Linked DNA regions of Homo sapiens. The protein of the gene in region 2 purifies or fractionates together with the protein of the main gene of each other region. This does not show direct contact. Each region holds a gene or a part of one and is shown on either strand. Other genes may lie near its edges.

Evidence for each region.
Region 1: the proteins of IL17RD (region 2) and MAP3K7 purify together in Homo sapiens (affinity purification with western blotting; one study listed by BioGRID). This does not show direct contact.
Region 3: the proteins of IL17RD (region 2) and KLRG2 fractionate together in Homo sapiens (co-fractionation; one large-scale study listed by BioGRID). This does not show direct contact.

Annotation. Positions count from the first base shown.
Region 1 is NC_000006.12:90,545,503-90,549,155, reverse strand, and holds part of MAP3K7 (mitogen-activated protein kinase kinase kinase 7), read left to right. Parts: intron 1-978; coding exon 979-1,109; intron 1,110-1,768; coding exon 1,769-1,898; intron 1,899-3,653. UniProt on the Homo sapiens protein: Serine/threonine kinase which acts as an essential component of the MAP kinase signal transduction pathway. Plays an important role in the cascades of cellular responses evoked by changes in the environment.
Region 2 is NC_000003.12:57,092,310-57,095,962, reverse strand, and holds part of IL17RD (interleukin-17 receptor D isoform a precursor), read left to right. Parts: 3' UTR 1-3,653. UniProt on the Homo sapiens protein: Feedback inhibitor of fibroblast growth factor mediated Ras-MAPK signaling and ERK activation. Regulates the nuclear ERK signaling pathway by spatially blocking nuclear translocation of activated ERK without inhibiting cytoplasmic phosphorylation of ERK.
Region 3 is NC_000007.14:139,456,116-139,459,768, forward strand, and holds part of KLRG2 (killer cell lectin-like receptor subfamily G member 2), read right to left. Parts: intron 1-3,653.

The DNA.
Region 1 (3,653 bases), on a different chromosome or scaffold from region 2:
TCTGGCCAAAGGTGTACCTTTCTGCCTGTGCATTATATCCCATCTGCTCCTCTGAGCAATTCTCCCCTGTCTCTTGCATCATCAGTTTTAGCTTTCTACTGGATCATTCCTAAAACATACGTAGTCTGTATTTGCATTCACTAGCTTCTCTTTTCCCCTTCTTTCTTGAGCTGACTCCATTCAGACGTATTATGCCAGTACTTCAGAATTGTTCTTGTCAAGGTCACTAGTTATCTCTACATCACTACATTTAAGGAATCATTTTCATTTCTCATCTTGACTCTCAGTAGCACTTGACCTAATTCATTACTTTCTCCTTCTTACAGACAGCACTTTCTTCAGTTGGCCTCCGAGATACCATACTAGCCTAGATTCCATCTTACATCTCTGGCCGTCTGTTCTCAGTTTTCTTTGCTGGTTATTCCTCATCTCCCCAACCTAGAAATGTTGGAGTGCCCAGGGCCTGCTCATTTGGCTTCTTCACTTATCTGTCTGCACTCATTTCCTTGGTAACCTCATTCATTATTATGGCCTTATATACCATCTGTTGGCTCATAATGTTTTCCATCTTATACCTGAACTCTATACTCATATATCCAACTATTTCCTTTACATCTACTAGAAACTCAAACTTAATATTTTCCAAACTGAGTTCCTGATACTTCCTTCAAACTCACTCTTCCTTTAGTCTTTCCGCATCTCAATTAATAGCCCTCAGTTCTTCTACTAGCTCAGGTTAAAAACCTTAAGTTATTCTTGACTATTAGAAGACTATTTAGGCATCTTGGTTCCTTTTTTGTGCTATCCTTAAGTTTCTCTTAAAATGGGTTTGTTTGGATATCTTCATTAGCTTGAAAAGTCTTATTTTATTTCTGTTCCTGCCTGGCTAGTTTATAAAAGAATGTAAGTTACATAATACCAAGTGAAGCATTTGTATTATTTCCAGCCATTAGTCATAAATGTTTCTGCTTTTCCTAGGCTCATTCATGGACATTGCTTCTACAAATACGAGTAACAAAAGTGACACTAATATGGAGCAAGTTCCTGCCACAAATGATACTATTAAGCGCTTAGAATCAAAATTGTTGAAAAATCAGGCAAAGCAACAGGTTTGTTATGTTATTACAAGTAAAACTGGTAACCTTACCAGTAGTCACAATATTATACTAACTGAAATTAATTATTTACCATCTTCTATTTTATAAATCCTGAATTTTCTTCCTGAAACATGCAAAAGAGCTTACAAATAGAGACACGTAATGAGATTCTCCTACCATTTATTACCAAATGGTTTTTCCTTCTAATGATTGCTACCTTTGCCAATTCTAAATCCCTATCTATAATAATCCCTAAATGTAATGGTTGATGGTTAAAAATGTAAAATGGGTATATTTTGGCTGCGCTGCCCAGTTAGAGGAGTTGTTCTAAGTCTATCATTTCATGCTGTTCAGATTTATTATATTTTTGCCATTGTTGATTTTTAAAAATATTTCAAGGAGTGAGTTTATTCATTTTGCCTGAGGCATTTAGGTTAACGAATAATTGGGGCTTTTAGCTCCCAGTTCTAGTGACTGCCTTTTCATAAAGACAGTATCTGCAGCTTGCTTTCCCTTACCCCTGTAGCTCCCTCTCGTACAAACTTCCCTCTCCTTTCAGAGCAGAACAGGATCTATCAGAATCCCATTTGCCATCTTCCTCCTTTTAGGTTGCCTAAGATTGCTAAATCTAAAGAACTTCAGTAATTCAGATTGACCTGTAATTTTAACAGAGTGAATCTGGACGTTTAAGCTTGGGAGCCTCCCGTGGGAGCAGTGTGGAGAGCTTGCCCCCAACCTCTGAGGGCAAGAGGATGAGTGCTGACATGTCTGAAATAGAAGCTAGGATCGCCGCAACCACAGGTAAAAAGGAACTACAAGTCTGAAGAGTGAAAATGTATATAAGCCTTTTTGGCCATGGTAGTTTCAGTTGTCAAAGGTTTTTTGTGTGTGTCTTATATTTTTTTTTAAATAGGAAGTAGGTTTACAATATATTTTTCTAAGTTACTAGCAATAGTTTATGCATTTATCTCAAATTCCAAATAAGGAAGGTATGACTTGTAAAATTATTTGGATGAGAAAGTATGCCTTCCTCATTTACAGATTTTATCAAATGTAATTCTTTCTGCTCAAACATGAGTTGAAAGTCTAAGTGAGAAATTGAAATTCTGCCAAAACCAGAATATTTTGGGGATTTTCAGTGATACTACTAGATTTTTGTGCTGAACTCAAATAATAGCAAATATTTTGTTTCAAATTTAACAGAAAAATGTATTCCAGATCCATGTATGATTTGACCTTCTATCTGCTTCTTCATTCCAGTGACAAAATAATAGCTAAGCTGGTTGTGGTTAATTTTTTTAATTGTAAAATAAAATATCATAATTTTATTAGATCTTGAAAAAGCTAGCATTTAAATTCCATTGTTCAGTTCTTAAAATTATTAATCATGGAAGAACTGGTCAGCACAAAAACAATTACATGTTTTGTTACTTAAGTAAACTGACAACCTAATTCTGTGACCAGGTTTCATTTTAGTAATGCTGGTTTAATTTGGACGTTTTTGGTTTTTTGCTGATTCTTTCCAGGGATCAGGGGGAGCTGATTTTAAAAGTAAACACGTTTCTGTTGTGGAAAATGTGGAAATGTAAACAAGCCAAAAAAACTTACATAATTACCCCACTCAGAGATAAACACTTAACATTTTTGTGTATTTACCCCATCTTTTAACTATGTATGTGTATAAATGTATATATTCATGTGTATTTGCATCTTTTTTAACTTAGCTAACCAATTTTTTAGGTCTTTTTTTCACTTATTTGGTTTTTTTCTAAATAGAATATTCTCATTGTGTGTGGAGCTCTTTTCAGAAAGAAGTTGTCAAGATGGACCATCATACTATACTTGTCTTCAACTAATCATGATCATTGATTTTATCAGCTACTATTAGAATCCATTAGATATAACAGAATATCCGAAATAACAGTGTCTATAACACATAAGCATTATTTTTCACATATAAACAAGTCTGGAGGTAGTGGGCTCTGTGATCTTGAAGTAACTGGTCTCCTATTTCTGTGCTGTAATCCCTACTGTATAGCTTCCATTCTCAAAGTTATCCTGTGCTCCAAAATGGCTGTTGAAGTTCCATTTCATCACTTCTACATTCCAGGCAATAGGAAGGAAGACATGGGGGCAGGGCAAATAGACATCCAAGTTCTTTGAAGGAACATTCCCAGATGCCTCTCTTAACAACATCCACACATCATTGGTCAAAGTAACATGGTCGAATGGCTACACGTAGCTCCAAGGGAAGAGGAGATCTGCCCTCTTTTATCTGATGACTTTTCTGTCCTAAATAAAATCAGAGTACTATTGCTAAAACAGAAGGGAAGAGTGGAAACTGGCAGAAGATAGCTGTGTCTGCCACAGATGGGTCTTCAGAAACTATCAAGTTGAGTAGAAGTCACCAGCCACTGACAAGCCCATGAGTCTCCATGAGTCACAAGTATTTCTTTGGAGCAGGGTTGTCTCACTGTAGTGTCAGATGAACCCTACTCACCGGGACATACCCTCATGCTTTGAGGAACCCTTTTCACTTCAGGGATGTTGTTCAGG
Region 2 (3,653 bases):
CCACAGAAATCAAGTGCCAGTCTATCTGGAATCCATGTTGTATTGCAGATAATGTTCTCATTTATTTTTGATGTAGAATTTACATTGCCATGGGTGTTAAATAAGCTTTGAGTCAAAAGTCAAGAAAGTGACTGAATATACAGTCACCTTTTATGAAATGAGTCTCTGTGTTACTGGGTGGCATGACTGATTGAGGTGAAGCTCACGGGGCCAGGCTGACCGTCTTGACCGTTCCACTTGAGATAGGTTGGTCATCGTGCAGAAGGCCCCAGGACCTCAGCACACACAGCCTCCTCTTGGTCTGAGTAGGCATCATGTGGGGGCCAGATCTGCCTGCTGTTTCCATGGGTTACATTTACTGTGCTGTATCTCAGATGTTGGTGTCTGGAAGTTTATTCTTAAGAGACTGCTACCCAGCTGGTCTGTATTATTGGAAGTTGCAGTTCGTGCTTTGGTTGGCCTTCTGGTCTAAAGCTGTGTCCTGAATATTAGGGATCACAATTCACTGAAATACAGCAGTGTGTGGAGGTGATGGCCAGTTAATCTGCTGAACTGGTTTTGACTAATGACAAACCTCTTTTTAAGATGGTAGAATGGAGGTGATAGTCACAAAAGTAAATGTTCCATTTTTATGAATGACTTTCTACAGAGTTTCTATTTCTAAAGAAAAAACAATTGTTCACATCCCATCTGATGATTAGCATGTGTGTAATGAATGCTGTCTTGGTCTCCCCTGTGGAAACCCTTCTCCCTGTGCCTTAGAGCAGGTGTGTACATCTCTCACTACCTTTCTCATGGGTGCTGTTAGATTTTGGCACCCGTTTTCTCAGCATTCAGCCCAGGGAATGTGGTTTTCACTTCTTCGTCAGATAAGACCAACATGAAGGGGTATGTTGAGAAACATCCTGAGGCAAGGTGGGAGGTGGGATGGGGCAGGACTTTCCCTTCCAAGCACATGCATGGCAGGTGGGGAAAGGGGGGCTTGCACCCCTGCTGGAAAGAAAAGGTTTGTGTATATTTCTGATGCAAATGTCATACTCACTGCTCTGTAAAGGCAGCTGGCAGCTTTTTGGGAAAAGAACGTGCTCGTCTGTTCTCTGGCATCAAGTTTCTTGCAGCTGCTCTGAGGGAGAGACAGTGAGCTGCAAGACTGCCTCCCCATAACAACAGGCAACTCAGAGAAGAGTCATTTTATGTTGTTCCTATGGAATCTGGAATGAGTGCAGAGCTCCTACCCACACATGACTGCCCCGCCATTTCATCCTAGGCATTCTGTGAAGGAGATTGGTTAGTCCAAACTTGCTAACATACGAAAATTCACTTGGAACATGATGAGAGATTTCTTATTGAGGCCAAGAGATGTTTCCTGTCCCAGAGGAACCATTAGGAGTCGCTTTTAGGGTATTCAGCTTTGTTCATGAAATAAGGCATCTCTGAGAAAGTGGCCCCAGGGAGAGAATGGAGGACTGGGAGGAGAAGCATTAACTGAGCTCCAAGGGTGTGTGGGCAGAGAGCTTGCTATGTGAACTCACTCCTTAAGAAAATGGAAGAGAAAAAGAGAGTGCTAGTTAAAAAATCGGGATGTTTTAGTTTGGATTTAGGGTTTTGATACTTATGTTGAAATACTAATGTTTCTGATCAATAAAATCAAACTCTTAATATACCGAGTAATGAAACCATAGTGTGATTGCCTCAGAATAAATTGAGAAGTCCAACTTCCTAGTTTTGTTTAATTAGTTTCACTTTTTCTACTCTCCCCAGTATGCTAGAAATGGGAATCGTTGCCCTGCAGATTACGGCAAAACATCTGTTTTAAGCAAAGCTGCATTTTTTGACTCAGAAATTGTCCCAGACGGTGGATATAAGATGAAATTCAGAAAAACGTTCTGCCAAGTCACAGGCTTTTAGATATTATGGAAACAAGAAATGGAAAACAGGATGATCTCCATGAGAGGCCTTGATCCTGAGAGTAAAAGGCTTGTGTAGATAGGTTAGACAACGTCCTCTAGAAAAGAGACCAGGGATAAGTCCAGGTTTCCAGGAAAACCAAGAAGCCTGCGGGTAGCTGAAGGTAGAGTGCTAGTTGTTCATCTTAACTTACCAATGAGCTACAGAAAGGACTTAGCATCTGATGTCATCAGCTTTGCCAGGAGAGTGATCAAGGAGGTTAAAGCTCAGGTAAAGGTGTGCCTTCTCAGAGATTGGCTACAAGCAACAGAGACCACCTCAACAGAGACCACCTCAACAGACTCAGCCCAGCCATACAAGGTGCCAAAGCTCCTCCAGAGGGCTGTCTTGGGCCTTTGAGGCAATTGATCTCCAGAAAGAGTCAGAAGTCATTCCAGTCCAGGCCCAGGTATTCAGATGGTGACCCAGCCAGATAATAGTATCTTGAGCAAATAATAGTATCTTGAGTGCAAATAAGCAGGAAGACTGTCCTTCAAAAAATGTGGGGTTACATGATTTTCAGAGCCTTTTTTTCAGAGTTGAGCATCTTTTCTTTTAAAAGAAATAAGGGGCAAGAGGACCAATTTTATTCCTTGAGGAAAAATGACACACCCTTCTCCCAAAAGAAAGAAAACTCTCTGGCCCCCCAACTTCAACACTAATTTGGCTCCCTGAAGAAGAGAGAAAATATTATTTCTGTCTTTATTGAAGAGAAATGGGCAATGCCAATGTGAAGGTTACTAGTCTTTTTTATTTTCTATTGGTGAAGACTACTACTGCTCTTATTTAGCAGATCTTATACCTTCAGTGGTCACCAGTATAGCAGGTGAGGTATAAGGAAAACAGCAGTGTGATGATAAATGGTAATTAATATACTTTGTCTGTGTCAGCAATAGGGAATGGTGGGGACTGTGGCAAACTGAAGCGCCCCTGTTCCACCCACAGTGGGTAATTTTCCAGTCGACTGTGGCCATGAAGTACTTCCTGATCTTCCCATTTTTCAAGAAAAGCTGACAATCTGGATTTTTATATGAAAAATTCTGATTTTAAAAAATATTGGCAACTAAGTTAAAATTCAAGTGAATTTAGACCCAGCAGAAGACATGGATGGACCTGATTTGGTCCACTGACTACCAGTTTGTTAACCTGTGCTTTATAAGATTTGAAGGAAAGGCATTCATGGTAATTACAGACGGTGCCACCAGAAAATGCTCTTGCTAAATGCAGCCAGTAGTTAGATTGCTTCTTTCTCCAGTCTCCCCCGCAAAGAAATTTGACGTGATTCTGAATGCACTGGACATGTCTTGATTGCGTCTTTACATTTCACAGTGTCTTAAAAGAAAGGCAAGCCAGTTGTTAATTTCAGAATCAGATTTATGCTCTCTCAATTTAAAAAATGCTGGGAACAATTTCATTTTTTTTTTTTTGAGATGGAGTCTTGCTCTGTTGCCCAGGCTGGAGTGCAGTGGCGTGATCTCGGCTCACTGCAAGCTCCACCTCCCGGGTTCACGCCATTCTCCTGCCTCAGCCTCCTGAGTAGCTGGGACTACAGGCGCCCACCACCACGCCTGGCTAATTTTTTTGTATTTTTAGTAGAGACGGGGTTTCACTGTGTTAGCCAGGATGATCTCGATCTCCTGACCTGGTGATCCGCTTGCCTCGGCCTCCCAAAGTGCTGGGATTACAGGCGTGAGCCACTGCGCCCG
Region 3 (3,653 bases), on a different chromosome or scaffold from region 2:
ATAAATGAATTTCGCATATGCTCAGTTCTTCTTCCCTAAGAAAATGGTTTAAGTCAACAAAGACAAGCCCTGGGAATTAGAGTGATGATTGTCCTGTTGCTGCCACCTCCTCCATCCTTCAGAACTGATTTAAAGGTGGCTTTTTTAACGGACACTGGGCTGACCCTCTCCAAGGTGAAATAGGTGCTCCTCCCTCCCCTTGGTTTCCACAACTTTCACAGAATAGAGCTGTCTCTTTTTTATTTTTATTTTTTTAATTTTTATTTTTGAGACGGAGTCTTGCTCAGCCACCTAGGCTGGAGTGCAGTGGCACAATCTCGGCTTACTGCAACCACCGTCTCCCGTGTTCAAGGAATTCTCCTGTCTCAGCCTCCCAAGTAGCTGGGATTACAGGCACCTGCCATGACGCCCAATTTAGTAGAGATGGGGTTTCACCATGTTGGCCAGGCTGGTCTTGAACTCCTGACCTCAGATGATTCACCCACCTCGGCCTCCCAAAGTGCTAGGATTACAGGTATAAGCCACTGCACCCAGCCTCTCTTTTTTATTTTTTAAGAGACAGGATCTCACTACGTTGTCCAGGCTGGCCTTGAACCTCTGGGCTCAAGCGATGCTCCCACCTCAGCCTCCGAAGTAGCTGGGACTGCTGGTGCGTGCCACCACTCATGTGCTGCCTTCTAATGGCTTGCCTCCTTGTCACTTTCCTGTATTAGTTGGTGAACCTGGTGCGGGCCAGGAGCTTGTCTTACTCAGCATCGCACTATGATAACCCAGTACACAGTAGGTCAACTCAGTGAAACTGCCTCCCCGCGCTCACTGCCAAAAATCAGCAGAGCCACAGTGAGACCAGGCCATCAGGCCACTGTGTATCCCAGAAGTGTCACGGAAAACCCATCTTCTGCCCCTCAAGGTTAGCACCAGTCAGTTAACAGCCCAGAGAGAAGTCAGGGGCAACTTCCCAGGCTGAAGGTTGCTAATCTTACCCTTCTTGAATCCTAAAGACCAGAGTGCATAGGAAAATGGAGAGTGGTGAGTGGACGGAACAGAGAATGTACACTGGGCAGCTGTTCCTTGGCTGGTGCTTCGGGGACACACTGGGGCCCAGGGTGGGGCTGGGCAGGGAAACTTGGAGAGGATGGGAGGGCCCCAGGCTGCTCTGAGGTGTGAGTCAGAGGGCTGAGCGGCCCAACACCGTCTTCCTGGGAGCACTCAGCTGCCTGTTTGGGAAGGCACACCAGGGCTCAGTGCCTCTTCCGGGGCTGAGATGGAGCCAGGCTACCCCATATGCAAATTCTGGCTCCATGACTTGTGAGCCACATGACCTTAGACAAGTTACCCAACCTTTCAGAGCCGCTGTGTGGTCGTCTGTAAAACGAAGATGCTTGTGATGAGGCTTGAGATACTAACATATAAAGCCACGGCCACCTAGTACACACTCATCCCATGTCCTCTCGCGTCTGACATGTGATGGGCAAAGCCTGTGACCTGCCTCCTACACACATGAGCCCCTTTGATGCTTACAGCAACCTCAAGAGGACCCTGTCCTTCTGTCAGAGCCCCAAGCTATCTGCCTCTCTCACCCTTCCCCTCTGGGCCTCCTGGTGACGGGAGCTGAAGGCCTCCCCCGAGCCCCAGCCCCGCCTAGACCCACCCACTCCATTCCATTCTTCTTTTCCTTGCGTTTGAGACTCCTGATCTCATTGTTAGCAAAAATGGTGGTGTAGGGAAGGCATTGTTCAGAGTTATAAATAAACTCTGGGAACTACTAAGTAATTTATGGCTAAAAGGACTGCTCTGTGCAAAAGATCCTGAGGCCTCCTTAACTGTGGATTCTCCAACTTTTCCACTAATATGGGGAGAGGGAATGTGATCCTGAGCAGAATGGACTGAAAATCTCATATTTTACGTCTTAAAATTATAGAAAATTGTTTCCTATGCCTTCATACATTTCTTTTTTAAAAATTGTGATAAAAGATTCACGGCCAGGCATGGCTGCTCACAGCTGTGGTCTTAGAACTGTGGGAGGCTGAGGAGGGCAGATCACTCAAGCTCAGGAGTTTGAGACCAGCCTGGGTAACATAGTGAGACCCTGTCTCTACAAAAAATACAAATATTAACCAGGTGTGGTGGCACGCTCCTGTACTCCCAGCTACTCAGGAGGCTGAGGCCGAAGGATGGCTTGACCCCGGGAGGTCGAGGCTGCACTGAGCCATGATTGCACCACTGCACTCCAGCCTGGGTGAGAGAGCAAGAGATCCTGTCTCAAAAAAAAAAAGAAAGAAAGAAAGAAAAAGTTTAATGACATAAAATTTACCATTTTAACCATGATAAGTGTACAGTTCAAGGGCATGAAGTATATCCACATTGTTGTAAAACCATCATCACCATCCATCTCCTGAACTTTTTCACCTCCCCAAACTGAAGCTGTCCTCATTAAACAACTCCCCATCCCCCGCTGCACTGGCAACAGCCATTCTACTCTCTATCTTCATCCATGTCTGTTTTAATATTAAAATGTTTCAAATTACTTTTCTTAATCCTAGGATGTAAATGTATTCAATGGTTTAATCTTTTTGAAATTAGCATCGGGCTCGAGTTCAGTGTGTGCTGTTAAGGTAGCTTCCTCCCTCCTCCACTCTGCAAAGCAAAGTTGTTATTAAACTAATGGTGAGCACTTACAACTTCCTACTTTTCACTAATCCTGAGCAAAACAGGCTTCTGGGAAGATGAGCCACGTCTATCCTGTACCTCTGGGCACCCTGGCCCTGGTGCGTTCCTGGGGTTTGTGCGCGCTGCTTCTGCGTGTGTGTCCTGTCCTCCCCACCCTGCCTCAGCACCTGCAGGAGCTTCCGGTCCTTGTCCAGAACTCAGGAAAATTCCAGAGTTCCACAATCATTATATTCCAGATTTTAACTGCCTAGATCTTGAATCTTAGCGTTGGTCTTTTTGCAGGGAAGGGGTTTACCCAGACTATGATATGTTTTCTGCAGATTTACTTATGTTTCAAATGATTGATGCTGTATGCATTTTTTTGTTAAATTCTTTATCTCAGGTTCTGTTTCCAATTTGGATAGTTAAACCCACCTCCCCCCATTGGCAACAAGGAGTTCTAAGCTCATCTGAGGTGAACCTGTCTGATGTGAGGCCCGTTTTACTGGCTTCCTGTTGGCATTTGCTGTGCTCAATCTGTCTGTCTCAGGACAAAATGCTATGTTCATCAGTCTTAAGCGATGGGATTCCATAAGTAAGTAATGGGATGAACTATGTCCCTGCAACAATATGATCCCCGCCCTGCTTGGCTCCTGGCCCTAACTCTAGGCACTCTAGAGACCACCTTTGGTCCCACCTACATTCCTACAGGCCTTCAATTTGCAGATACAACCAGTCTGAGTCGTTTGGTACAGGAGCCTGGGGTGCTTTCTTTGCACAGCCCATTCCCATCTCAACGCCAACACCTCAGGGCCCAGCCCAGGCGCTGAGCAGAAACTGATCCCTACTGAGCTCCTCTTGCCCTCACAGGCTACTGGTGCCCTGGCATATTCCCCCATTCACAGCATATATTATTTGTGGAACATTTAGAAAATAAATGTTATTCCTGGTTACACAGTAATCTGTGCTCACTGAAAAACATCACCTCCAGATTTTTTTTTTTT